7 linked regions of the Homo sapiens genome follow. The protein of the gene in region 1 purifies or fractionates together with the protein of each later gene. This does not show direct contact. Each region holds a gene or a part of one and is shown in the gene's direction. Other genes may lie near its edges.

Region 1 (3,500 bases):
CAGAGCACAGCACTCTCACAAATACACCCACACTGCCTTTCAGAGGATGGAGAACAGGAATGCTCCTGGGATACTTAGAACTAAGGCTTGAAGGAAAGTAAGAGCTAAGGATACAGGATAGGGGCCAGAGGACATCAAACAGAGGGAAGAATGTTACCGGGCACAGAGTTGTGAGGGAACGTGGGATATCCAAAGGTTCTAAGTAATTTTGCATGCCTGGAGCCAGGCCACGATCAGGGGAAGCTGACCAGCAACCCTCCTGAAGAAGGAATGGAGCTCAGATCATGAGGGAACTTGTGTGTCATGACACAGAGCTTGTGGTTTGCCTGGGGTTGGATGGGCCCCGTTTGAGAGCCTGGCGGGAAGCTGCTGCCGTGGCTGCGGGCAGAAGGGCGGGAATGGCACACAACAGGCAGACAGACAGACACGGATGTGCAGCAGAGCACAAGGCTGAGGCACAGGGACTGCTCGCTGACCAGAGGCAGCAGGTGAGGGAGAACACGGAGTCCTGGGCGCCTTCACGACCCCTGCCTTGAGTACCACAGTAAGATCCCTGAGCGAATGACCGAGTTGACCTGGAATTCAGTTTATCCATAAAATAATGATATTTAATGTTCCTCCCTAATTTCCATCTGATAAGAGACAAAAACAAAATTGAAACTCCTTGAACTTGAAAGAGAAAAGGTACATATTATTTCCAGAAACATTCAGGACTCAGAGGAGAAATATTATAGACACAGAGCTTCATTATAAAGAGCCTTTTTATATTATGCAGTTTTCCCACATGCTGCATCCTACAAATCATGCCAGATACAAACACAGAATATCTTTCTTACACTAAAATGAGTATTATGGTGGGATTCTTAGTTTCTTAGTTCTCTAAACATATGTCATCTTCATCTTCAATAACTTCCATACTTTTCAATATAAAAGCCACCAAAAGCCACATAGGTGGCTTTTACCAGTGAAAGGTGAAAGAAAATAACTAGAATATGTGAAACCCCAAATGTGCAAGTGGGTGTTCAACCAAAGAATTCCCGTGCTCAAGCACCTTTCCATCATTTCCAAGGAGCGCGTCTATGAAGCCGAAGTGGGTCTTTGCTGCACATCCACTGGGTTCAGGACACATATAAAGCACAAAGAGGAAACAGTAGACTGCTAAACCCTTTTTCAGTCTTGAAGATGTTTTTCTGTCTTTTTCTGTCTTGAAGAAGTTCTCTGTACTTGGTCCTATAAATGGCCTTTCGCAGATCTATTGGGAGCTGGTCTGACCCAGGATATGCAATGGGGTTGGCAGGCTGGTCACAGAGCTCCTCAATAAGGCTGCCTCTACTAAGCCCCTCGGCTAGTCACACTCCATAAGCCAGAAAGCAAGCCCCCAGGAGGCAGGGGAGGTCCCCCAAACAGACGGACCACAGTCAACTCTATGCTGAATATCATTGTTCTCAATCCTTCTAAAAAATGAATCATGGACATAAACATAGCTATCAATTTAGGACTCAAAGTTGGCTGGGAAAAAGTCACCTTACAGTGTACAAAGATGTATTTAACCAGGCCACAGAGGCATGTACTGACTACTGTGACAGTTGGTTAGCAGCGTATTATTAATAGAATGGACAATTTGACTTTACTAATGAAGCACCAGGAGGCTCTGACTATGCTGGTCACAGCTCCACAGCAGTGCAGGTTCCTCTTGCACACCAGGAATGCATGTTTCCCACTGTCCATTTTACAGGCAAACAACACCCATAATCCCTCAGATGATGGCTGTTTAGTCAATGAAAAAGGTGATGAGAAAAATCACTAGTTGAATGCTAGGACCCAGTATGTGTGACACTGGGCCAAATTTAGATGCCCCTGTTTGAACAAGAAGGCGTTTTCAAATAATTGACAAATACTTATCAAACCAGGTAACCAGAGGAAGAAGTAATGAATGATTTCTTTCTTCCCTGGAGCAGGTTTGTTCTCAAGGGAGCTGAAACAGCCCCAGCTTGCCATCCTGATACATCTGTGCTTATCTTTATTTCCTCAGTAGAACCATATCTTTGAAATTTCAATTAACCCTGAGCTTTCATCTTCCCCCTCCTTTCCAATGATTTTATTTCTCCCTGCTCCAGAAATTTTTCCTCAGTCTTAACCTTTCCTCAAAGTAGCCAAGGACAGTGTATCAGATCAAACACTCCTCACTTAACAATATACACATATAATTAGTATCTGTGTGGCTGCATCTGGGTGGCTCCCCTGGCTGTTTTTGAAAGTGAGCTTCTGGAAGTTCCTCTTTGGTACATCCACTGTGGGCACATTGATTTAGGTCACCTCTCTGTATAAGCTGACTCTAGAGAAGACTTGACCTACAGAGAAGTCACCTCCAATTGGTGATCATCTCAGCACAACTTGACCCATTCCAGTCATTGCTAGTGGCTACAATTAAACAGAATTCCTAGGTAAGCCCCTTTTCATTCAAGGTGTTGATGATTATTAAAATAAATAAATATTAGAGGGCAAAGGTGACATTTCAGCAAAAACCAAAAGCTGTTATTCTAGCACCAACTAAATCCCCGAATATGGTAAAGGTTTTGTTCTGTTTCTGCCCAAATTAAAGGCTAAGAAAACACTTTAATTACTTGAACGAGTAAATTAGGACCATGGAAGGTACATGTCCTCTGTGAAAAATCACAAATCCCTCCAAGTGGGTATCTAGGGATTTTCTTAGATGCTAAATAAATGAGTTTTGGGGGGCCTTTTATTTTTTTTTCCTTTTGCGGCTAGAAAGAACCTGTCAGTTCATGTCAACATGTCCGGTTATGCAAAAATGAGATGATAATATCTCAAGAAGTGTTAGCAACTCTATTAGCAATGAAATACATTCTAGAGAAAAAAACACACAGGCTCACTTCTCAAAGCATAAGTAAAAATACTTTGGAAGATATTTTGCTGAGGAAGAAACTTACTGTTTTACACATGTTAGGATAACAGTAAAGTTAAAAGGACCAAGTACTGCATTACAGAGGCAAAACTGGGATTGTCTCCTTTGTTTACCAATAAAAATAAGAGAATGGCATAGATGGCTTCCAGGGTGGCTCCCAGCAGAAGGTACAGGAGCCTTGAAGGCCGACAGGGCCCTGTTCCACAGGTGGAACCTGAATAAGGATCCAGGCTTCCTGTGGCCCAGTCATTATCCATGCCCTCCAGGGAAAGGCCTCTGTCCTGACTCCTGTCCCTCAGTGTGGGCAGCACGAAGGACGGCTGAGGGGCCACGTGCATCTTTTCATTAGAATGCATTATGAGGAAGCTATAATTCTGATATTAGTGTTCTAAAGAAAAAAGATTTAGAACTAACATTTCTTTGGGCTTTTCCCTAGGCAATACAATGATAAATGATAATACTTTCTAGTATACCTTAGTTTATATAAATATATCTTAAATAACATGTCAGAAGCTGCTGCCTAATAATTAAAATGTAAAATACTTAAAATATACTTAAGAATAAATTTTCTACC
Region 2 (3,500 bases), on another chromosome or scaffold:
TCTTGTTCACTGATGTATCCCTAGCATCTAGAATAGTGCCTGGTATATAGTATGTACCTAGTAAATATTCACTGAATGAATGAATGAATTGAAGATACAGGTCGGGGCTGTGGCCCTAATGTGAACATCACATTCCTTGTTGGATCATTCCAGGGGAGACAATCCAGGGTCTGAGGGCGAATCTCACCAGTGCCATAGAAACCCTGTGTGGTGTGGACTCCTCTGTGGCAGTGTCCTCTGGCGGGGAGCTCTTCCTCCGCTTCATCAGTCTTGCCTCCCTGGAATACTCCGTAAGTGCCTGTTCTCCCTGGGGTTACCTTTCCACTTCTCTGTTTAGTGACAGACATTCTCAGCATTAACTGGATCTTCCCTGTCCCCTCAGTTTGCTCTTTTCTTCCTAGGATTACTCCAAATGTAAAAAGATCATGATTGAGCGGGGAGAACTTTTTCTCAGGAGAATATCACTGTCAAGAAACAAAATTGCAGATCTGTGCCATACTTTCATCAAAGATGGAGCGGTGAGTGGATAATCATCATGGTGGTAAGGAGGAGCAACGGTTTCGAGTCCGACTGCCTGGGGTAAAATCCGGGCTCTGCCACTCACTTGCTGTGGAGACTTGAACAAGTAACTTAACCTGTCTGTGCAGCTTTCTCATCTGTTAAATAAGGATGACAATAGTACCTACCTCCTTGGGTTGTTGTGAGGATTAAATGAGGCAAGACATGTAAGGGGCAAGGGGTGTGAGGGCTTGGTATTGTGCCTGGCACTTAGTAAGTGCTGCATGAATGTAGGTCTTGTTATTAGAGATGGTTGTCATTGTAAACAGGCAGAGAGGGACAGTGGGACAGCACGTGTGATTCTTGATTTATTTTATTTATTTATTTATTTATTTTGAGACGGAGTCTTGCTCTGTCACCCAGGCTGGAGTGCAGTGGCGCGATCTCAGCTCACTGCAAGCTCCGCCTCCTGGGTTCACACCATTCTCCTGCCTCAGCCTCCCGAGTAGCTGGGACTACAGGTGCCCACCAGCAAGCCCAGCTAATTTTTTTTATTTTTAGTAGAGACGGGGTTTCACTGTGTTAGCCAGGATGGTCTCGATCTCCTGACCTTGTGATCCACCCGCTTCGGCCTCCCAAAGTGCTGGGATTACAGGCGTGAGCCACCGCACCTGGCCCTGATTCTTGATTTAATACAGTGTTTTACTAAAGAAGTATTTTTATGATTGTATGTGTAGTAAATCTGAATTAACAGAACAGCTCTTGTCACTGGTTAACACTGAGGACTTTCTTAGTGAAGGTTAGCAATAGAGGGAAATTGAGGGAAATTTTCTTTTTAACTTCATTTTAGATGCTATTACAGAGATGTAAAGCCACGCAGTGTTTATAAGTGAGGAAAGACAGGAGGTGCAAGTTGAACCATCTTCCAGTAAAGGTGTAATGAAACTATCATAATGCCCCTCCCACCAGCATACGTCCTTTTGCCACCTAGGCCTCCCCTGATCATAAAATCATTTACTTGCATTTTGACTCTTAAATCTTGTCCTCCATTTTATTAGCCCCTTCCCAACCTTTGAAGTATGTTATTAAATAAATGGCATAATAGATGTGAGTGAAACTTGTAGAAAAGCCAGTTGCAAACGAAGCCTTTTTTGGGCAAGTGGAGGCAAGGTTGTGACTTCCTCTCGCTGGGGCCTTCTCCTTCCACAGACCTGCTGTGCCGTCAGTATTGTGCGGGTTTCGTTTGCTCTAGTGTAGTGTGGTATGTATGTACTTTACCTGCAGTCACCTACTCAGGACTGATTTAGACAAAATTTATAGCAGAGCTGCTCAGATTTGCACATGCAGAGGAGTCAGCTGGGGTCTTATTAAATGCAGATCGGGATTCAGTGGGTTTGGGCTAGGGTCCACGAACCTGCCTTCCTAACGGGTTCTCAGGTGAGACCCAGAAAGGAGCTAGAGAGCTGGTTCTGCCCCCTTGTCTTATTCTGTCTTCTGCACTCTTCCATAGAAAAGAGGTTATGGAGGCTGGGCATGGTGGCTCATGCCTGTAATCCCAGCACTTTGGAAAGCCAAGACACGCAGATTGCTTGAGTCCAGGAGTTCAAGACCAGCCCGGGCAACATGGCAAAACTTCATCTCTACTAAAAATACAAAAAGTTAGCCAGGCGTGGTGGCACACTCCTGTGGTCCCAGCTACTTGGGAGGCTCAGGTGGGAGAATCACCTGAACCCAGGAAGTTGAGGCTGCAGTGAGCTGAGATCATACCACTGCACTTCAGCCTGGGCAATTGGAGTGAGATCCTGTCTCACCAAAAAAAAAAAAAAAAAAAAAAAAAGAGGTTATGGGCCTACTGTGGTGGCTTATGTGTATAATCCTAGCCGGAGGTTCCCTTGAGGCCAGGAATTCAACACTAGCCTGAGCAACATAGGGAGAGAGGCCCTGTCTCTACAAAAAATAAAATAAATTAGCTAGTCACAGTGGCGCACATCTGTAGTCCCAGCTACTGGGGTGGCTGAGGTGGGAGGATCGTTTGAGCCCAGGATGTCGAGGCTACAGTGAGCCATGAACACTGCACTGCACTCCAGCCTAGGCATCAGAGCAAGACCTTGGCTCAAGAAAGAAAAGAAAACAGATTATGTCTAAGTGTCTACACATTGCATCCACGCCACAGATAGGTTGTGATTACCCCAAACAGTGTTTATAAATTCAAAAAAATTAGTTAGCCATCATTTCAAAATTGGATTTTTGAAACATCACCTGGTCTGGCAATCTTGGGGCCACATGACGCCAGCTGGGGCTGAGGAGTCCTGGCCCTCCTTAGCCTTTTCTTTTTGAGACAGAGTCTCACTCTCTTGCCCAGACTAGAGTGCACTGGCATGATTATGGCTCACTGCAGCCTCAACCTCCCAGGCTCAAGTGATCCTCCCACCTCGGCCTCCCAAGTAGCTGGGACTATAGGCACATGCCACTGCATCCAGCTAATTTTTTTTGTTGTTATTTTTTGTAGAGATGAGGTCTTGCCAAGTTGCCCAGACTGGTTTTGAACTCCTGGGCTCAGGCAGTCCTCTCACCTTGGCCTCCCAAAATGCTGGGATTACAGGCGTGAGCCACCACACCCAGCCTTCTGTAGCCTTTCGCTTTGCTGCTGGCCCCACCCAACCTGCTGCAGTGACTTCTGCTACCTACTTGGTTCCTGTAGGCCTGCGTGTGCAAACCATGTCTTAGAAATAGGAAAACCAACCCAAGGGAACCTCATGGAGCCTTCAGCTATCCAGGCTTTTGTATCCTTTGGGTAACACTGTGTGGGAGTTCCATTTCTGCACCTGCTACAGGATGTGAGACCTGGCAGAAACTTTTTTAGCTTGCACATGGGATGGAAACTGTACCATCAGGTCTCCTTTCTGGTTGTGGTTGATTTGTGAGAAAGTGTACAGAGATGCTTAGGGTGTCGGGAACACGTGCCGCAGTGCAGAGGGTGTGAGTGAGCAGCAAGGAGCCTG
Region 3 (3,500 bases), on another chromosome or scaffold:
GCGTGGCTGTGGCTGTGGTTCTGCACAGAGCAGGTGGGGAAGGTGAAGATATTAACAATGGAGAGTCCCAGTTGAGCATCACTGGGCTACAAGTCCCTTGCCCTCCTGTCCTTTTCCTCTTGGTAGATAAACCTTCACAGAACCTCAATTCAGGACCCTATCCATTTCCAACAGAACCCCAACACCATGGGAGATGAAGATATAGGATTATTTCTTCCTAGGTTTGTGTGCCGGTTTAGAATTGTCTGTGTCCTACTATGTCTAACATCCCACTTGATCTTGACAACAGCCCTGTGAGCTGGGAAAGAGGGACAGTTTGTGGAACAGATATCGAGGCTCTTACCTTTGGAATAAATAAAATGGGACTCAGAAGGGTTATTCAGCTGTCAGTGAGAGTGGTGTTGGCTTTTTATTCACAACAGTGAAAACTCCATATAAATAGACAGGTAATTTCAGGGCCATGGAGTAGATAGAGCACTCACCCTCAAAGAGCCTTTGAGAGAAGTCTGGTTATCTCTGTCTGGCCAGTTTCTGGCCCTTGCTTCTCTTACCTATGTCTTCAGAAATCTTCATTCCGGCTATTCACCTTCTCTCCCAGTCTCAGTTAGGTACCCTTCTCACAGAAGAGTTCCTCTTCACTGCTCTTGTATCTTGTTAAAAGGCTTTTTTTTCCCTCCTTTTTATTCTGTCCCCAGCCTGCTGTAGCAATGCCTGATCTCTCTTTCTATTTATTGTTCCATGGAGCCAAACCTCCTTCTGTCCCTTTGGGATGACCTATTGTTATACATTAATAATTAACCTTTACTAGGAACTCTAGTCACAGGCATTTAACCCAAATGCAGAAAAAGCCAAAGTTTGTTTATGACAAAGAGTTCTCACATGCTAAGGTATAATAGTGAAGGTTAGAAAGGAGAAGCTGACACTCATTAAACTTTTATGATTTCTTTTCTGGTTTACTCACTTGAGTGATTGCCTGAGGATCCTGCAATATTTCCCTTTGCACATGGTCAGCCCAGTTTAGCTAAAATGAAAAATTCAGCTTTTGAATTGTGAAGTTGAGCATGCATGACTTTCCATGTAATGTTAAAGATAAGCCTCACAGGTGCTGCTAGTGGGGCCTGGTTCTGAGCATATGGACCCTGGGGCCCAAATGCCTAGGTTCAAGTCCTGCTCTGCCACTTATCAGCTGTGTGCCTGTGGGCCGGTTCCCTAACTGCTCTCTGTGTCTGTTTCTGCATCTGTAAAATAAGGCAATGATTACAGGTATCTCAAATGGGTGTTGTCTGTATCTAATGGGATGGAGAGGTGTTAAATCCTTACCATGGTGCCTGGTGGTAGGTGCTTAATAAGTGTTAGTATCATTATTTTCAATGTTATTGACTATGGTTAGGTCCACGGTCAAGGTTACATAATAGTGAGTCATTTTCAATGCTTCGCCATAGTTATATATCACTCTTGTAATATCCATTAGAATGCAAACAGCTTTGCTTGATTCTCTCCTGGTGATGAGAGATGGGAACTAATTCTACATTTAAATATTGGGGATTATATGATATGTGCTGGAGTGACCCATCCAATTAACTTTGTCTCACAGATATGGACAGATGAGGCTTATTTTAGAAATTAGCCATTGTTGTTTTGGAGATGATAATGCAACCTTTTCAGGGCTGTGGAAATAGCGAAATGAGATTAACAATAACCCTCCAAATAGCTGCGACTTTTGTGCCCTTATGATATTGCATTCCTAAGTGCTTCACATGTTTTAAATCATTTTATTATTACAAAATAAATAGTTTGTTTATTCCTATGTTCCCAATTTCAGGAGAGGAAACAGACTCAGAAAATTTACTTTGCCAAAGTCACATAGCTTGTAAGTAGTAAATGTGGAATTCAAACCTAAATCTGGGTCCTGACTTAGAATTTGAATAAGGTAATATAAAGAAAATAGGAAAATAGTTGGGACGCTCAATACTCAGATCCTTGTCTATTTCCCTTCCATTGTTTTCTGCTTATTAAGTTTTTATGGATACGACATTGCTCAGAGATCAGAGCGCCAAAAACCATTCCAGGGTACTGTATCAAATTTCAGTTCAAATAAGAGTAAAACTTTTTTGAAATTCTAATTTCATGGAGAAAGATTAATTTCTGCTTTTAGATGGATTATACCTGGTTTAGAAAGTCATAACAGATTTTTTTCCCATAGGTTATTGGGGTTCAGGTGGTGTTTGGTTACATGAATAAGTTCTTAAGTGGTTATTTGTGCGATTTTGGTGCACTCATCACCCAAGCAGTATACACTGCACCCTATTTGTAGTCTTTTATTCCTCACCCTCATCACACCCTTCCCCTCAAGTCCCCAAAGTCCATGTATCATTCTTATGCCTTTGCGTCTTCATAGCTTAGCTCCCACATATCAGTGAGAACATACAATGTTCGGTTTTCCATTCCTGAGTTACTTCACTTAGAATAATAGTTTCCAGTCTTATCCAGGTCACTGCAAATGCCATTAATTCATTCCTTTTTATGGCTGAGTAGTATTCATATATATATATCACATTTTCTTGATCCACTTGTTGATTGATGAACGTTTGGGTTGGTTCCACAATTTTGCAATTGGAAATTGTGCTGCTATACACATGCCTGTGCAAGTATCTTTTTCTTATAATGACTTCTTTTCCTCTGGGTAGATACCCAGTAGTGGGATTGCTGGATCAAATGGTAGTTCTACTTTTAGTTCTTTAAGGGATCTCCACACTGTTTTCCATAGTGGCTGTTAGACAGTCATAACAGATTTTTTTAACTGCCATCCTCACGTTCTCCACCTACCTACCCACTCTGCAGGACAGTGGCCATGGCTTTGCAGAAGTGTACACTAACCTTGGGTAGGGCATGGAGGCAGAAAGCTCTGCTGGACCCCCTTGCAAGGTGAATTAGTATCTGGTTCAGTATTCTTTGTAAAATCAGACTCTCAACTAAATCAATGTCCTTGACTGACTGGCTGAAATAGGGCTTCAGGGTGTCTCATTCTACCACTGTACAGAGGGCACATGCAATGTGCAAAAAATAAAAACAAAAACAGACCTCTGTCCCCACCAGCTTTTAACACTTACTCTTTTCTTTCAAGTAATATATCCACATGGTTGAAAAAAAGTCTAACACTGTAAGAGGGCACAGTGAAAAGTAAGTCACCCTCCCACTCCAGAATATTAATCCCGCAAATATACTCCCCAATGACAATTTTATAGTTCCAAAGAGACTTTATGCTTACTGGAGCATATATACATATAATGCCCCCACGCCCCCACACTTTTACACAATGATAACATAATGCACCCTCTATCCTGTTCCTTGACAATTTCACTTAACAATGTGACCTGGAGAGCTTCCACATCAAAACCAAAAGCAATACCTTGTTTGCAAGGCCTGCCTAATATTCCATTATAACGCTGTGCCATCTGCTATTGATGGTCATTTAGGTTGTTTCTGGTATTTTACTAAGG
Region 4 (3,500 bases), on another chromosome or scaffold:
AAAGTTCAGTAATCAAGAGTATAAATATTCTCAGAGTAGTGAAATTATTGCAAAGCATGGTGGAAGATGGGAATTTTCCCTTTATTTTTATGTATTTATTTTTGGAGATAGGATTTTGCTTTGTTGCCCAGGCTAGAGTGCAGTGGTGGGTCATGGCTCACTTGCACCCTCCACCTCCGGGTTCAAGTGATTCGCCTGCCTCAGCCTCTGGAGTAACTGGGACTGCAGGCATGTGCCACCATGTCTGGCTAATTTTTTTGTATTTTAGTAGAGATGGGGTTTTACCATGTTGCCGAAGGTGGTCTCAAACTCCTGAGCTCAGGCAGTCTGCCTGCCTTGGCCTCCCAAAGTGCTGGGATTACAGGAATGAGCCACTGCGCCCAGCCCTTCCCTTTATTTTAATGTGGAGGGGAGAACCAGTGGGTAAAAGTCTTAGGCTCCACCTAAGGAAATACTTCTCACCTTCAGATCGGAAAAGAAAATGGTCATTTGAACAGGGAGTGAGGCCCACGTCACAGCCACGAGGGTGTGCGCTTGAAAGAACCCTCAGAAACCATGACATGGTCAGGAGTGGGGTGTGCGGTGAGGCCAGGTCTCTCCAGGACCCAGTTCTGCTTGGCACCAGAGCCTTTTAATTCTCCTCTGAGTTGGATCTTGTTCCACCAGGGAGGTTGAGAGGTTGGCCTTTTCTTTCCATATTAATTTCCTCCTCAGTCATCAGACTGATGACATTCTGACCCTGCTGTGTAGTTTACAAAGCATATCAGAGCGTGTTGTGGGCCAGCCCAGGAGAGGAGCTGGTCATATCATTCATGGTGCATGTGTTGGGGAGGGGTGCTCCGGACGGCCTGGGCTGGTTTGGTGCTTGTGCAGTGGGGGTGGGGAAGGCTCTGGCCATGGGGAGATGCATTGCCCCTGGGTGGAATGTGGGCTGGCAGAGCCCCTGGGTTTCCCTCTCACCTGGTGGCCTTCACCCACAGAGGACTCTTTCATGTCCACTATTGGCTCTGCTGCTTCTGGCTGCTGGTGTCCTCTCGTAGTGGCTGCTGTGGGGCCATTTCTCTCTCAGACTTAATTTCATGGGAGCCACTGTAATAGGAGCAAAATCCCCAGGGTGTGGGGTTTGTATTGCAGACTGTGGCTCCAAGAGGCATCTCCAGGACAGAAGGGGCTTTGATATCTTCACCCATCTACACAGGCCTGGGCATTTCCTTGAGTCTCAGTGGGAGGGACACCAGCCATGGGATTTCCTCCTCTTTCCCCGTTTACAATAAAACCGTACTATGGAAACATCATATATGCATGCACCCGGTGCACTTCTGCAGACAGTGGGCTGTGTCTAGCTAAACCCAGCCTACTCTGCTCCAGCTGTTCCCCGAGAGGATTATAAGAGAGGTTGCAGACCCACCTGGATGCTCTGACCTCAGTCATACTGTGTGCCCCAGCTAGGGTAACAAGCCATCCTTCAGTTTGCATAAGACTGAGTAAATTCCCAGGATGCAAGACATTCAGTGCTGAAACCAGGACAGCTCCAGGCAAATTGGGACACTTGGTTATTCTACCTCGGCTGTTCTTCCTCCAGGCCTGCCACTCCATTGGAGTTTTGAGTCCAGATTTCTAGAATGTGCTGCATGCCGAGGAAGTCTGTCGGGGGGCAGGTGAGGGAGAGTGAGATGTCTTCTTTTCTTTTTCTTTTCCTATTCTTTTCCAACACATGCATTCACAGTCTTCACTGTGGCTAGCACAGGAGCCTCCATTGGCCAGCGCCGTATTTCCCTAAGCATTTGGTCTTGGCCCTAGGAACAGAGCTTTTGCTGTCTTTATTTGTCATCTCAAAGTGCATGGCCTTAAACTTGAGGTTCCCCACAGCACTTCACACTCAGCTGACTGCAGCAGGGCACTCTCTTCTGGTCATTTGTAAAGAACATCCATGGCTCCTGGACAAGACTCTTGCTTAGTAGTTGGCAAATGAGCAGAAGTATCCCCCTCCCTGCAGCTGATGTGTGTACCTGGGGCAGTTCCCATCCAAGTTCACATTACATCAGTGTTGGGATTCCATGTGTCTTGGCTTAGGAATCTTGGCACTCAAAGTAGGGGGCTTAGGAGCAAAAGAATCACACCTGTCCTGGAAGGAATGAGGGGGGCCTATCTGCTTGACTTCAAGGGACTCATTTCACTGTTTTTGTTTGTTTGTTTGTTTATTGTTGTTGTTGGTTTTCTGATGTGAAATGGAACAGGGGCAAATCTTTAAAGCTGGTGGAGTCAATTCCACAAACAAAACTTCCCTTCCTTTCTTAAGAGCTTTTTGTAGAAATCAGCCTTGCAATTAGCACTGCAACGTTCCAACCACTTAACACACTTCCCCACTGGCCTTTTGAAGCAAACAAGTATTTAGAAGCTGACAGGACAAAGTCACTTTATTTCTCCTTTTCCTTTACCTTGAAATTGTTCCTAGCCACAGGGCTGGCCACTCCTCACTGTCCAAAAAACTACCCTGATGCAGTATGCAGTGGCAGATCAGTTTAGTAAGGAATAACCCAAGTCACCGAATGCAAGAGAATGAAAACAAAAACAAAAACAAAAAAAACACCCTGTTGCATTAACGCAAGTATTCTCTGGGCTCTGTGTCTCTGGACGTGCATCTTCCAGAACCTGCAGGCGCGTGGCCTGCCCTCCACCTGCGTGGGAATGCATGCTGGATTTACATCCCAGTTACATCGCTTCCAGAAAGACAGGATCTCTGTTGGATGCCCATGAAGCTTATACTGAGTAAATATTGACAAAGTAGTCTAAAGAGCAAACACTTTGACATTTGTAAGGTCCACTGGAAGGTCTTGTATATATTTATACATCAGGAATGAGCACCGCATACCAATTTTCCTGAACTTGTTGTGACATAATTCTGCATGGAGAGTGTGTGTGCACAGGTGGCTGAGAACGGCTGAGTGTTCACATGGGGGACAGGGCTGGGGGCTGGGTGGTAGCTGGTCAGGGTATTTCCTCTCAACTGGAACGAACCCACACCTATCCCTGCCAGGAAACCTACCTCTAAGCTTTTCTGAGACCTGCTTTTCCAGAAGGAAGAAAGAAAAAAAAAAAGCCACAAAATCTTGTTTTTCCCTTATTACAATGGACGTACTTTTCTTTTTACTTGGTAAAAATTTTATTGATGTTTTTATACTTTATATTTATTAAAGATTGAGCCTCAAAAATGTAATGAGTAAAAAATGCTTGCTTAATTTAAATTGTGAATCTGTCTGTTAAGAAATGCATTAGGGGTAGGAGAAGCATAAGACATATTAATTGACAGACAGGAACTGCTGTCTCTGAGGTTGATACAAGTAATTTATTACTTTAGAAATGAATGCCACCTCCAGAATGTGCTTCATTAATTTCAAATTTAGTTTTAATTTCAAGCTGTTGCCCCTTGAGAAGAATAAGGTGGCAAATTATGTTTGAAGAGCAGATTTTTTTTTTTTTTTGCTCCAAAGAAACACCAC
Region 5 (3,500 bases), on another chromosome or scaffold:
TCCTCCGGCCTTTCCCCACAGCTTGACTTCCCGGGCATCGGCCAACACGTACCCTCCCTGTTGCCGGGGCCCCCGCCTGGGCAGGCCTGAGCTCCACACAGGGTGGGGAAGGCCCCGAGTCCCTCCCGGTACCGGGTGGGGCTGGGTGCCGGGGTTGGGAGCACAAGTGTTTCCAGGGCTGTCGGAACAGTGCCACAGGCTGAGCAGCTGCAGCTGCAGACATGGGTCGTCCGTGGTTCTAGAGCCTGGAAGCCTGAGATCAAGTGTGCGTCCACCAGGCTGGCCCCTTCTGAGGCGTGAGGAAGTCTGCTCCACACTGCCAGCTTCCAGGTGTTCCTTGGCTGGTAAATCCCACCTTGGCCTCCACAGGCCGCTCTCCCCGTGTGCGCTTCTGTCTCCGAATTCCCCCTCTTCACAAGGACACAACTCTAATTGGGTCAGGGCCCACCGGTACCATCTCTTCTTAACGAGAGGTGTCACACAGACTCCACACCCAAAGTCACATCCTGAGGAATCGGGGTTAGGCCTCAGCCATGTGGGTTTTGGGGGTACAGTTTAGCCTGTAGTGGGGAGCTAGCCCAGCCCGGCACACCTACATCTTCCCATCAGGTGGCAAAGACCCCGAGGCTCTGGGTGTTTTGTGATTGTGGCCTCCTGAGCACTGGGCCGTGTTTCTGTAATGGGCTTAGAGCTCAGCACAGATGTGCCCGAGACCCTGGTGACAGTGTGAGGGAGTGACCACGCCCCAGCCTGCCACTCACCCCCGTCCACCTGAGGCGCTCTCTGGGCACAGCCTGGTCCCCACAAGCCTGGGAGGCCTCAGCGTCAGGCCCTGCACAGCTACTGGGTCCTTGGCCAGCCCCTCCTGCCGTGGGCCTCCGCTTTTCCCTCAGGTCCGGGTGGCAGGGCCGGGCCACTCAGGTGATGTTCCAGGTCTAGTGGTACAGCAGTGGCTGAGGATGCCGCCGCCTGTGCCGTCACAGAACTGGGGTGGGGGGCAGTGGCCAGGCTGGCCTGAAAACCTTCTCCAGGTTGCGTTGCGGGAGCCCAGGCTGGGAGAGTCGTGGTTCAGTGGTGTGAGTGTGCCTTGGACAGGCCCCAGTCTCCCACTTGTCAGGGGGCAGAGCCCTTCAGGTGGACTTTGGGCGGGGAGGCAGTGGGACTGCAGGGCGAGGGTTTGGAGATGTAGAGATGAGGGAGGCCTGGGGGCCAGGAGGCTGCACCACTGCTGTCTCCTGAGGCGGTGGCTGGCCGAGGAGGCCCGCTGCTCTCTTGTGCTGAGTGCCCCTTGGGTCCTGCAGGCTTGGCAGGGTGACAGGGCAGCCACCCAGGGGCTCCACCTGTCCTGCTCCTTCAGGAGGAGGAGACCTCCCAGGGCTGTGGTGGGGAGGAGGGCCAGCCACAGAGCCACTGCAAATCATCCCTGAGGCCAGGCGACTCGGAAGCAGAAACCCTGAGCCCAGCACGGGGCAGTGGGAGGTGAGGCCCAGCGGCATCTGTGAACTAGGCCTCCTGGTGGGCTCTCAAGGTCTTTGATGGGGCGCAGCCGGTGGACAGGGAGAGAAGGGTCCCTCTTTCCCCAGGCCCTCCCTCCCCTGGTCCTCTCCCACCTTTGAGGTGCCCCAGGAGTTCCCAGAGTCGGCAGCACCAGGGGCTGTCTACCGGGTGGGCTGAATACCACTTAGTTTGCAGATGGGAAAGCTGAGTCCCAGAGAGGGGTTCCCAGGGCTCAGAGCTGAGAGGCCTCGCCGCCTGGGGCCAAGCCCCACACTTGCTTGCCGAGTGACTCACTCCTGCTCTGGGCCTGGCTAGCAGGGGTGAGGCTGGGTCAGAGGATGGGGAGCTGGGCCAAGGCCACAGACTACCCCGCAGGTGCAGGCACCCAGAGGCCTGAGGGGCACCGGGAGCGCACAGGAGGGGAGGCTGTGAACACGGCCCGGCTTCTTTGCAGCTCCGTGTCGGGGCCATGTGAGGACACACACCGCAGGAGGGCCCGGCCAGCCTCAGCCCAGCCCAGCCGCCACGCCCGGTGGGTCTCCTGAGGTCAGAGCCAGCCCCACAGTGGGCACCACATGCCCGCCTGCTGTCCTGGCTCCTCCTGAGGGACAAGGGTGAGCTGGGCGGGCCAGGAAGTACAACGCTGCTAGGCTTCTGCTCTCGCCCCACAGAAGTTCAGGTTCTACTGAGAAACTTGGCTGGGGCTTCCGGGGACTCCCAAATCCAGCCGCCCAGGACCCTGCGGCACTGTCCATCCTGAGCCCCGTCCTCACCCGCTGGTCCATCCTGGGGTGATGGATCTGGCTGCAGTGACCCCGATGCTCTGAGGCCCAGAACAGCACGTCTCCCTCCTGGGAACAGCCAAGCCTTAGGCCCATGCAGCAGCGACCGGATCCCTAGCCTCCCCGGCAGGGGTGCTTCCTGGGTGCGCCATCAGCAGTGGGACCTGTAGGGAAGTCTGTGGCCTGTGCGCACCTTCAGACGATTTCCCCAAACACCGACGACAGCTGTCCAGTGCGTCACAGAGCTGTGGCCTATGGGTGATCGTCTCAGCCTGTCCCTGCATCTGGTGCAGCCTCAGTGCCCACTGTGGACCCCGCAGCCCACCCGTGTCTGGCGCATCCTTGGTGACTGGGGCTCCCTGTGGCTGTCTGATCCCATCCCTGTGGTAACCCATGTGTGACGTCCAAGTGTCTCCTCAAGAACCGGGGCCAGGAGGCCCATCCTTGGCTCTGGAGACTGCAGGGAGAGCATCCCACCCACCTGTGACCATCTACCAGGCCCTGGGGACAAAGCTGATGCCACCTGCCACCAGGGTTGGCTCAGGCGTTTACATGCATCTCCAGTTGTCATGGAGCTTGGGACACACTGGACCCAAGGAGGTATTTTAAAAGGACAAGTCTCTCACGTAATCCAGCCCCACTGTTCCTGAACGCGATGCCCCCTCCCCGAGCCTGGCGGGGGGCTGTACACAGAACACTGCTCAGCATCTTCAGTCTCCCTCCTGTGGCCTCACACCCAGGATGGTAGGTGTTAGAACAGGTGCCTCCCTGTTCTATGTGCGTGGCCTCATCCTGTGGGCAATTTGGGGTGAGGGGTGGCTGCAGGTCAGACAGATACCTGGGAAGGTCCCCTGGGATAGGGTGGCTCCCAAGCGGGAGCAGTTGCCCTGGGCACTTGTGACATCCCAGTGATTGAGGAGTGGGGGTGCTCTGGTGTTTAGTGGGTGGGGCCAGGGAGCCCAGTAATCCTGCAAGATGGAGGTGCCCTTCCACAAACGCCAGTAGCACCCCCAAGAGAAATACTTGAACTGAAGCTATAGGCAGAACCACGCCAGGGGAAGAGGGAGCTCAGGGGAGGGGGCACCACTCAGCGCCAGGTGCTGGGATGGGAGGAAGGGCAGACTGTGGTGGCCAAACACCAGCATGCAGGAGGGTTGTTCTAGATGCATCCATCCTTCTGTGGGTGCACGGATGAGGTTCTGGATGTAATTCATGGGCTTC
Region 6 (3,500 bases), on another chromosome or scaffold:
CAAATATTTACTGAGTAATATATTTTCCTTAGGATAGACTTATAGAAATGGAATTACAGGGTGAAATTATATGAATATCTTCAAGTCTTTTGCTATAATGTTGCCAATTATTTTTCAGAGATTTTATCAGTTTATACTCCGACTCCCATTATGTGACAGTAACGGTTCTCAAAGCACTCTTATCAGTAATGAAAATTGTTTTGAATCAGTTAATTTAGTTGGAGGAGAAATTGCATCTTATTTTAGTTTTTTACTTCTTTGAAAATATTTTATATGTTTTTTTAACACATATCTGTTTATTAAGAATATTCTTTGCCCTATTCATAGCAATTATTTTGTCTTTTTATTTGGTGGGATTGTTTGCTAGTAGTCAAGTCTATTGTTCTCCTTTGTGATTGCTTGAGAAGAGCTTATGATTTCATGAGATAAGACAGGTGTTTCTAGGAAGGCTGTGTATAAGAGGGAAAGGAGAAAGTAAGGTTGACCAGGGCACTGTATCCAGCAAGTGGCCTAGGCCCAGGATGTTCACAATGGTTCACTGTAGCTTTGTAACATTTCTTGGCACAGCTCTGAGCTGCCTGCACTTTAACTAGGAAGCAGGAAGAGTAATTGTTTCCTTCATTATGTTTCTAAGTCAACTGCATCATGGGGATTGACCTAATGTTGAGCTCCAGCAGAGGTGGGTGGGACCTGGCAGGGCTGTTTCATAGCCTCTCTTCAAATCATGGATCCTCTCGAAGGTTCTGCCTGATGGGGCCATGTGCCAAGGCTCGTCTGCTTGCCTCTTGCAGTGACAGTTCTTTTTGGTCTGTAATGTAAATATCATGGCCCTGAAATCCCCTAGCTGTCCGTGCTTTGTCACTTCTTCAAAGGGAACTGACTTGTTTTCCAATGGAGGAGGAACATTTGCTGCCTACACTGGTTTGAAGCATTAAAAGGGGAGAAAAAGAGCTAAGAGTAAGTGTTGCTTCATTCTTTGTATTCACATGGAAATTTTTAAATCTTCATCAAAGGATCAGGAGAAAAATCACATTGAAATTCAATACAAGAGCTCACAGCTTAACACAGAATTTTTCAAAATTGATTCTTTAAAAATTGCAGAAACTATGAACTGTGTAGCTCCAGGGTTCATAGTTTTCCTTACCCTCCTCAGCCTCTGCCTCTGTCTTGCCTTCCTTTCTACCTACACTCCATCTGTTTGGTTTTGTGTCAGCATGCAGAGCTTTGAATGGGGGCTGGGAGAGGTGGTGGGAAGTATGCAGCAAGTCAGGTTTATAGAGCTGCCCATACTTTCACCCCTCTCTCAGGCCTCATTATCTCATCTCTCAGAATATTGTAACTGGTCTCCCTTTCTTCAGTTTCCTTATTCCAGGCTTTCTTCCACATTGCTACCAGAATTACCTTAATAAGAGATAAAACTGTTCATGTCACTTTCTTGCTTAAAAACTACCACTGGCAGCCAGGTGCGGTGGCTCACACCTGTAATCCCGGCACTTTGGGAGGCTGAGGTGGGAGGACTGCTTGAGTCCAGGAGTTCAAGACCAGCCTGGGCAACATAGTGAGACTTTGCCTCTACAAATAATAAAAAAATTAGCTGGGCATGGTGGCACATGCCTGTGGTCCCAGCTACTTGGGAGGCCAAGGCAGGAGGATCACTTGAGCCCAGGTAGTCAAGACTGCAGTGAGTTGTGATTGCACCACTGCACTCCAGCCTGGGCAGCAGAGCAAGACCCCGTCTAACAAGGAAAAATTACCACTGGCTTCTCAGTCCAGACTTTCTAGACTGCTACTGTAACTCCTCAGTGGGTTCATCTTACCTGCTGCCGAGATAGAGACGATTTATCAAGATGGGAGAATTGCAATAAAGAGTTTAATACACATAGAGGCAGCTAAACGGGAAACCAGAATTTTATTATTACTCAAATCAGCCTCCCCCAGAATTCTGAGGCTAGGGTTTTTCAAGGATGGTTTGGTGGGCAGGGGTCTAGGGAATGAGTGCTGCTGATTGGTTGGGGATGCAATCATAGGGGTGTGGAAACCAGTCCTCTGCTGAGCCCAGTTTTGGATGGGGGCCACAGAGGGGTCACTGGTCCCAGTGGAGTCATCCAGTCATCAGAAATGCAAAAGTCAGAAAAGACATCTTAAAAAGCCAATCTTAGGTTCAACAATAGTGATGTTACTTACAGGAGTAACTGGGGAAGTTGCAAATCTTGTGACCTTTGGAAAAATGATTGGTAATCATGAGAATTCAGGCCCCTCTTGTAATCCTAAATTTGTACGCTTTTATTAGTTTTATAAAGGCAGTTTCATTTTGAGAAGGGCTATTATCATTTAAACTATAAACTGTAATAAATTTCTGGCTAGGCATGGTGGCTCACACCTGTAATCCTAGCATGTTGAGAGGCCGGAGCAAGCGGATCACCTGAGGTCAGGAGTTCAAGACTCCTGACCTCAGGATGGTCAACATGACGAGACACCATCTCTACTCAAAATACAAAAATTAGCCAGGCATGGTGGCCGGCGCCTGTAATCCCAGCTACTTGGGTGGCTGAGGCAGGAGAATCACTTGAACTGGGAGGTGGAGGTTGCGATAAGCCAAGATCGCACCGCTACACTCCAGCCTGGGCCACAGAGCGAGACTCCATCTCAAAAAAAAAAAAAAAAAAAGAAAAAGAAAAAAAAGTCAGGCACAGTGGCTCATGCCTGTAATCCCAGCACTTTAAGAGGCTGCAGCAGGCGGATCACTTGAGGCCAGGAGTTTGAGACCAGCTTGGCCAACATGGCAAAACCCCATCCCTACCAAAAAATACAAAAACAGCCAGGCATTGTGGCATGTGCCTGTAGTCCCAGCTACTTGGGAGGCTGGAGCACAAGAATCACTTGAACCCAGGAGGCAGAGGTTGCAGTGAGCTGAGATCATGCCACTGCACTCCAGCCTGGGCGATAGAGCAAGACTGTCTCAAAAAAAAAAAAAAAATTAGCCAGGCATGTGGCTCTCACACCTGTAATCCCAGCTTTCCAGCCACTCAGGAGGCTGAGGTGGGAGAATCACTTGAACCTGGGAGGCAAAGGTTGCAGTGAGCTGAGATCGCACCACTGTACTCCAGCCTGGGCAACAGACAGAGTGAGACCCTGTCTCAGAAAAAAAAAAAAAAAAGTTTTCTCCCAAAGTTAGCTCAGCCTATGTCCAGGAATGAGCAAGAGCAATTTGGAGGTTAACAGCAAGATGGAGTTGATTAGGTCAGATTTCTTTCACTGTCATAATTTTGTCACTGTTATTTTTGCAAAGGTGGTTTCACCACAAAAAGCTTTCGTGATCTGGCCCCCTTGCCTACCTGATTAGCTTAACCTTCTGCTTTTCCTCTTAAACTCATACAGGCTACTGTCCATTGGATTATGAATTCCTTGAAGTCAGAAATGATGTATTTCCAAGGCCTAGCACAGTAACTCGCATATGCTTGGTAAATGCTACATAAATTAATTAGCAATATAAAATTCTA
Region 7 (3,500 bases), on another chromosome or scaffold:
CTGAACTCGTGATCCACCAGCCTCGGCCTCCCAAAGTGTTGAGATTACAGGTGTGAGCCACCACGCCTGGCCATATTTAATATTCTTTAATATAACACTTTGATGCTGATCAAAACACTTTAGATATTTATCAAATTAATCTGACTTAATACTGTACATGGTTACTTGACTGCAAACCATTCCTTTGAAGAACCATTCCCTTCATTTTTATAAAACAATAAAGTTGGTATCTCCTCCACTTCATTCCCTGCTGTTCATGAGAATCTAATAAATATCTGATATTCTACAAAAACCTCTATTCCTTGCAACCACACAGGTATAGTCATATATTTTTAGAATCACTTGATAGAATAGAGTTGATCGATTTTAATCTGTTTCAAATGCAGGTAATTTTATCATGCTGTTATTCAGTTTGTGTTTATTTTATATTCATTATTTGATGGTTTTGATTTAGCTTTTATTTAACCATGAAAATGCTAAAATTGTCCTTGCTCATACTCAAAAGTTTCCTTCAGATATATATTATCATTTCCAATTTAATATCATGTATAACAGGAAGAATTTTAAAGTCATGCTTAGTCTTATTTCACTAATATTAAATATTTTGATTCTTATTTACATGAAAATTCTTTCACTCTTACAAATCTTTTAGATTTTGACCTAATTAGTCATCATATTATTACAGTGATAACTTGCTACTTAAGACCATGGAAACTTAATTTCACATCTGTAACCAGAGATATATTTCCGTTTTTAAATGTGTATTACACTTAGACTAGAGATTTTTGGCATTGCCATGAAACACTCGATATGATAAATTTTTTGCATCTTCCAGCTGTGGTACAGGGCAGTATTTTCTTGTCACTGACCTAAGACTGTTTGACACCCCTCCTCCCCTAGTAAAAAGAAGTAGTGGGTGTCTTTGATGTTGTGCACAGCTGGAAGAAGATATCTCCTGAGTTGAGATTTAGACTTCTTTCCTCACCATCTTAAATCACTGTCTGACTTTAGAAAGGCATATGTATGGTGTTTTAAACATTCTTTGTTGTTCGTTTTCTTCTCTTAGCAAACTTCTCAATAGAATTTTATTCCCACTCTTCCTGGCATTGTTTATAAATGTCAGTTTTTGAACGTGGCCAGTAATAGTTTGATTTAATTTTTTAAAAAAAGATAGACTATTCAAAACTGTTGTGTTCCAGAAGTTGTTAAGATATTTTGTGATAAAATTAGTATTCATGTAACTTAAGGACTATTTGTGTCTAATAGAGTTGCTGATAGAATGAATTGGGAAATGTATATAAAGAATTGTGATCATGGAGAAGGGTATTATAAATCATATTACTATTTCTTATGTAGTAATTATGAAAATAATTACCTTATTAGAAAGTAGTATATGATTTTTAACATATTTTATCTATGACACTTTCCGTACATAATGGCTAAGAATATTTCTTCTGAAGATAATTCAAATAGTTGTATTCAGCATAGAAAATTAAGATTTTTGAAACAGTCATCTGAAAATTCTTAGTAGACAGATAATAAAAGTGATAGAAAAATTGTATCCCATATTTGGAGTATTTCCATGTGCTTTATAAAACTTTGCCCATCATATGTGCAATATAATTATTGTAAACAGATTTACTAATTTTTAGAAATTATAAAAATAATTTAATGTATGTAAAAGCATTTTGTTTCTTCCTTGTATATGTATTTTATTTAAGGCACACGAAGTATTATGCTTAGAGATGCTCACTTTGCTCCTGGAAAGACCAACAGATGATAGCGTTGAAGTAGCTATTGGTTTTCTTAAGGAATGTGGCCTCAAATTAACACAAGTGTCACCAAGAGGAATCAATGGTAAGTGTACATTCATAGTTTGATGTTAAGTTTTTATTATATTTATTGCTTATTTTATTGTCTTTTCTTTCTGTTAACTTTTAGCTATATTTGAACGCCTTCGAAACATTCTGCATGAGTCTGAAATTGACAAAAGAGTTCAATATATGATTGAAGTGATGTTTGCTGTACGGAAAGATGGATTCAAGGACCACCCCATTATCCTAGAAGGTCTTGATTTGGTGGAAGAAGATGATCAATTCACTCATATGCTCCCTCTGGAGGATGACTATAATCCAGAAGATGTTCTTAGTAAGTCCGGGGCATGTTAGTTGGAAAGAGGCTTACCAACAAATGTAAATATAGAAAATAAACATTAACTTTTACATTTTTTTTAGATGTTTTCAAGATGGATCCTAATTTTATGGAGAATGAAGAGAAGTACAAAGCTATTAAGAAAGGTATGTAAAATTTTATAAAATAATTTAGTTTGGATAAGTAGAAGCAATTTAAGTAGTTACGTAATACTGATAGCAAATATTTAGAGATCCCCACCTAATGAATCGCTGCTCTTATAAAGTTATTCTCTTAGCTGTTTCCTCGGGCATTATTTTTTTCCTGGTGCTTGCCCAGGGTTTTTTACTTCATTCTGAATTACTTACCCCATTGTTCTTTCCTCTTTCCCTCTAAACTATGCAACACTTACGTCTCACCCATCTTAAGAAATATTCATAGATTAGTGGTGGCCTTTATTTAGCTTCTCTACCATTTACATTCTGTGCCACCCAGTTTAGTATTCAATTAAGTGGTATACTTTATTGTAAAGTGCTATACTTTATTGTTTCTTGAGGTCAGGTTAATATCCTTCTGGTAGGATGAATCATAGTATTGGTGCCTCTCTGATAAAATAAATTGATCATTTTCATTTGTACATCATTGGTATATTGTAAGTACTAACTTTGGACAGGTTTTGATGTGTAATTTATCTTTGACATTACTAGCTGAGTGACCTGTAGCAAGTTACTTGTTTGTTGGAAGACTAAATGTTACCTTTCTATGGAAGGATATATAAAACACAGTGTTGTGTATTATCACCTACAATGATAGCTATTATTAGTTACTATTTTCACATTTGTATTATTTTCCTCCTAAAGCTAACACTCAGGCCTACTTACATAATAATTTTATGGGCTTATTTCTCTTGAGTTGTAATTTTACTGGAGAAGTATTTATTGCTGTGGAAGCAATAAAATTTACCTTTGTATTAAACCCCAAAAGTTTGTATTAAAAGCTCTCTGATTATAATAGAAATGTAAAGAGTTGGTTAGCTTTGCAAAATCTTTTATCAGGCTAACAGCACCATTGGGCAAAATGTAATTTTAGTTTTTGTCATTTGTTTGCTTTTAACATAAAGACCAGCCTTATGTAGTCTCATATACAGAGAAAGCAGAAACCTAGAACTCTGTCTCTGTCTGCATTCCATTGTTCAGTAGTGCTTAGAAGTAGAAGGTTGAAATGAAAAGTAAAATTGGGAGAAATCTTCCATTCCTCTGCATTATCCTAAAAACCTGTTATAATAATGAGTTTCTCTTCTTAGATGCTGATTTCCTAGGAGCTTTTCACTGTAATATGCCAGATTCTTTTTTTCTGTTATAATTTCATTT

What was found.
Region 2: the proteins of GPR183 (region 1) and EIF2B1 purify together in Homo sapiens (affinity purification with mass spectrometry; 3 studies listed by BioGRID and IntAct, with this or other methods). This does not show direct contact.
Region 3: the proteins of GPR183 (region 1) and NRXN3 purify together in Homo sapiens (affinity purification with mass spectrometry; 3 studies listed by BioGRID and IntAct, with this or other methods). This does not show direct contact.
Region 4: the proteins of GPR183 (region 1) and TSHZ3 purify together in Homo sapiens (affinity purification with mass spectrometry; 3 studies listed by BioGRID and IntAct, with this or other methods). This does not show direct contact.
Region 5: the proteins of GPR183 (region 1) and GPC1 purify together in Homo sapiens (affinity purification with mass spectrometry; 3 studies listed by BioGRID and IntAct, with this or other methods). This does not show direct contact.
Region 6: the proteins of GPR183 (region 1) and EIF2B3 purify together in Homo sapiens (affinity purification with mass spectrometry; 3 studies listed by BioGRID and IntAct, with this or other methods). This does not show direct contact.
Region 7: the proteins of GPR183 (region 1) and CWC22 purify together in Homo sapiens (affinity purification with mass spectrometry; 3 studies listed by BioGRID and IntAct, with this or other methods). This does not show direct contact.

Annotation. Positions count from the first base shown.
Region 1 is NC_000013.11:99,300,900-99,304,399, reverse strand, and holds part of GPR183 (G-protein coupled receptor 183), read left to right. Parts: intron 1-3,500. UniProt on the Homo sapiens protein: G-protein coupled receptor expressed in lymphocytes that acts as a chemotactic receptor for B-cells, T-cells, splenic dendritic cells, monocytes/macrophages and astrocytes.
Region 2 is NC_000012.12:123,627,187-123,630,686, reverse strand, and holds part of EIF2B1 (translation initiation factor eIF2B subunit alpha), read left to right. Parts: intron 1-153; coding exon 154-290; intron 291-401; coding exon 402-518; intron 519-3,500.
Region 3 is NC_000014.9:78,705,373-78,708,872, forward strand, and holds part of NRXN3 (neurexin 3), read left to right. Parts: intron 1-3,409; exon of another isoform or gene 3,410-3,500. UniProt on the Homo sapiens protein: Neuronal cell surface protein that may be involved in cell recognition and cell adhesion. May mediate intracellular signaling. Functions as part of a trans-synaptic complex by binding to cerebellins and postsynaptic GRID1.
Region 4 is NC_000019.10:31,279,937-31,283,436, reverse strand, and holds part of TSHZ3 (teashirt homolog 3), read left to right. Parts: intron 1-3,500. UniProt on the Homo sapiens protein: Transcriptional regulator involved in developmental processes. Functions in association with APBB1, SET and HDAC factors as a transcriptional repressor, that inhibits the expression of CASP4.
Region 5 is NC_000002.12:240,442,163-240,445,662, forward strand, and holds part of GPC1 (glypican-1 precursor), read left to right. Parts: intron 1-3,500. UniProt on the Homo sapiens protein: Cell surface proteoglycan that bears heparan sulfate. Binds, via the heparan sulfate side chains, alpha-4 (V) collagen and participates in Schwann cell myelination.
Region 6 is NC_000001.11:44,882,096-44,885,595, reverse strand, and holds part of EIF2B3 (translation initiation factor eIF2B subunit gamma), read left to right. Parts: intron 1-3,500. UniProt on the Homo sapiens protein: Acts as a component of the translation initiation factor 2B (eIF2B) complex, which catalyzes the exchange of GDP for GTP on the eukaryotic initiation factor 2 (eIF2) complex gamma subunit.
Region 7 is NC_000002.12:179,969,298-179,972,797, reverse strand, and holds part of CWC22 (pre-mRNA-splicing factor CWC22 homolog), read left to right. Parts: intron 1-1,721; coding exon 1,722-1,857; intron 1,858-1,941; coding exon 1,942-2,148; intron 2,149-2,234; coding exon 2,235-2,297; intron 2,298-3,500. UniProt on the Homo sapiens protein: Required for pre-mRNA splicing as component of the spliceosome. As a component of the minor spliceosome, involved in the splicing of U12-type introns in pre-mRNAs. Promotes exon-junction complex (EJC) assembly.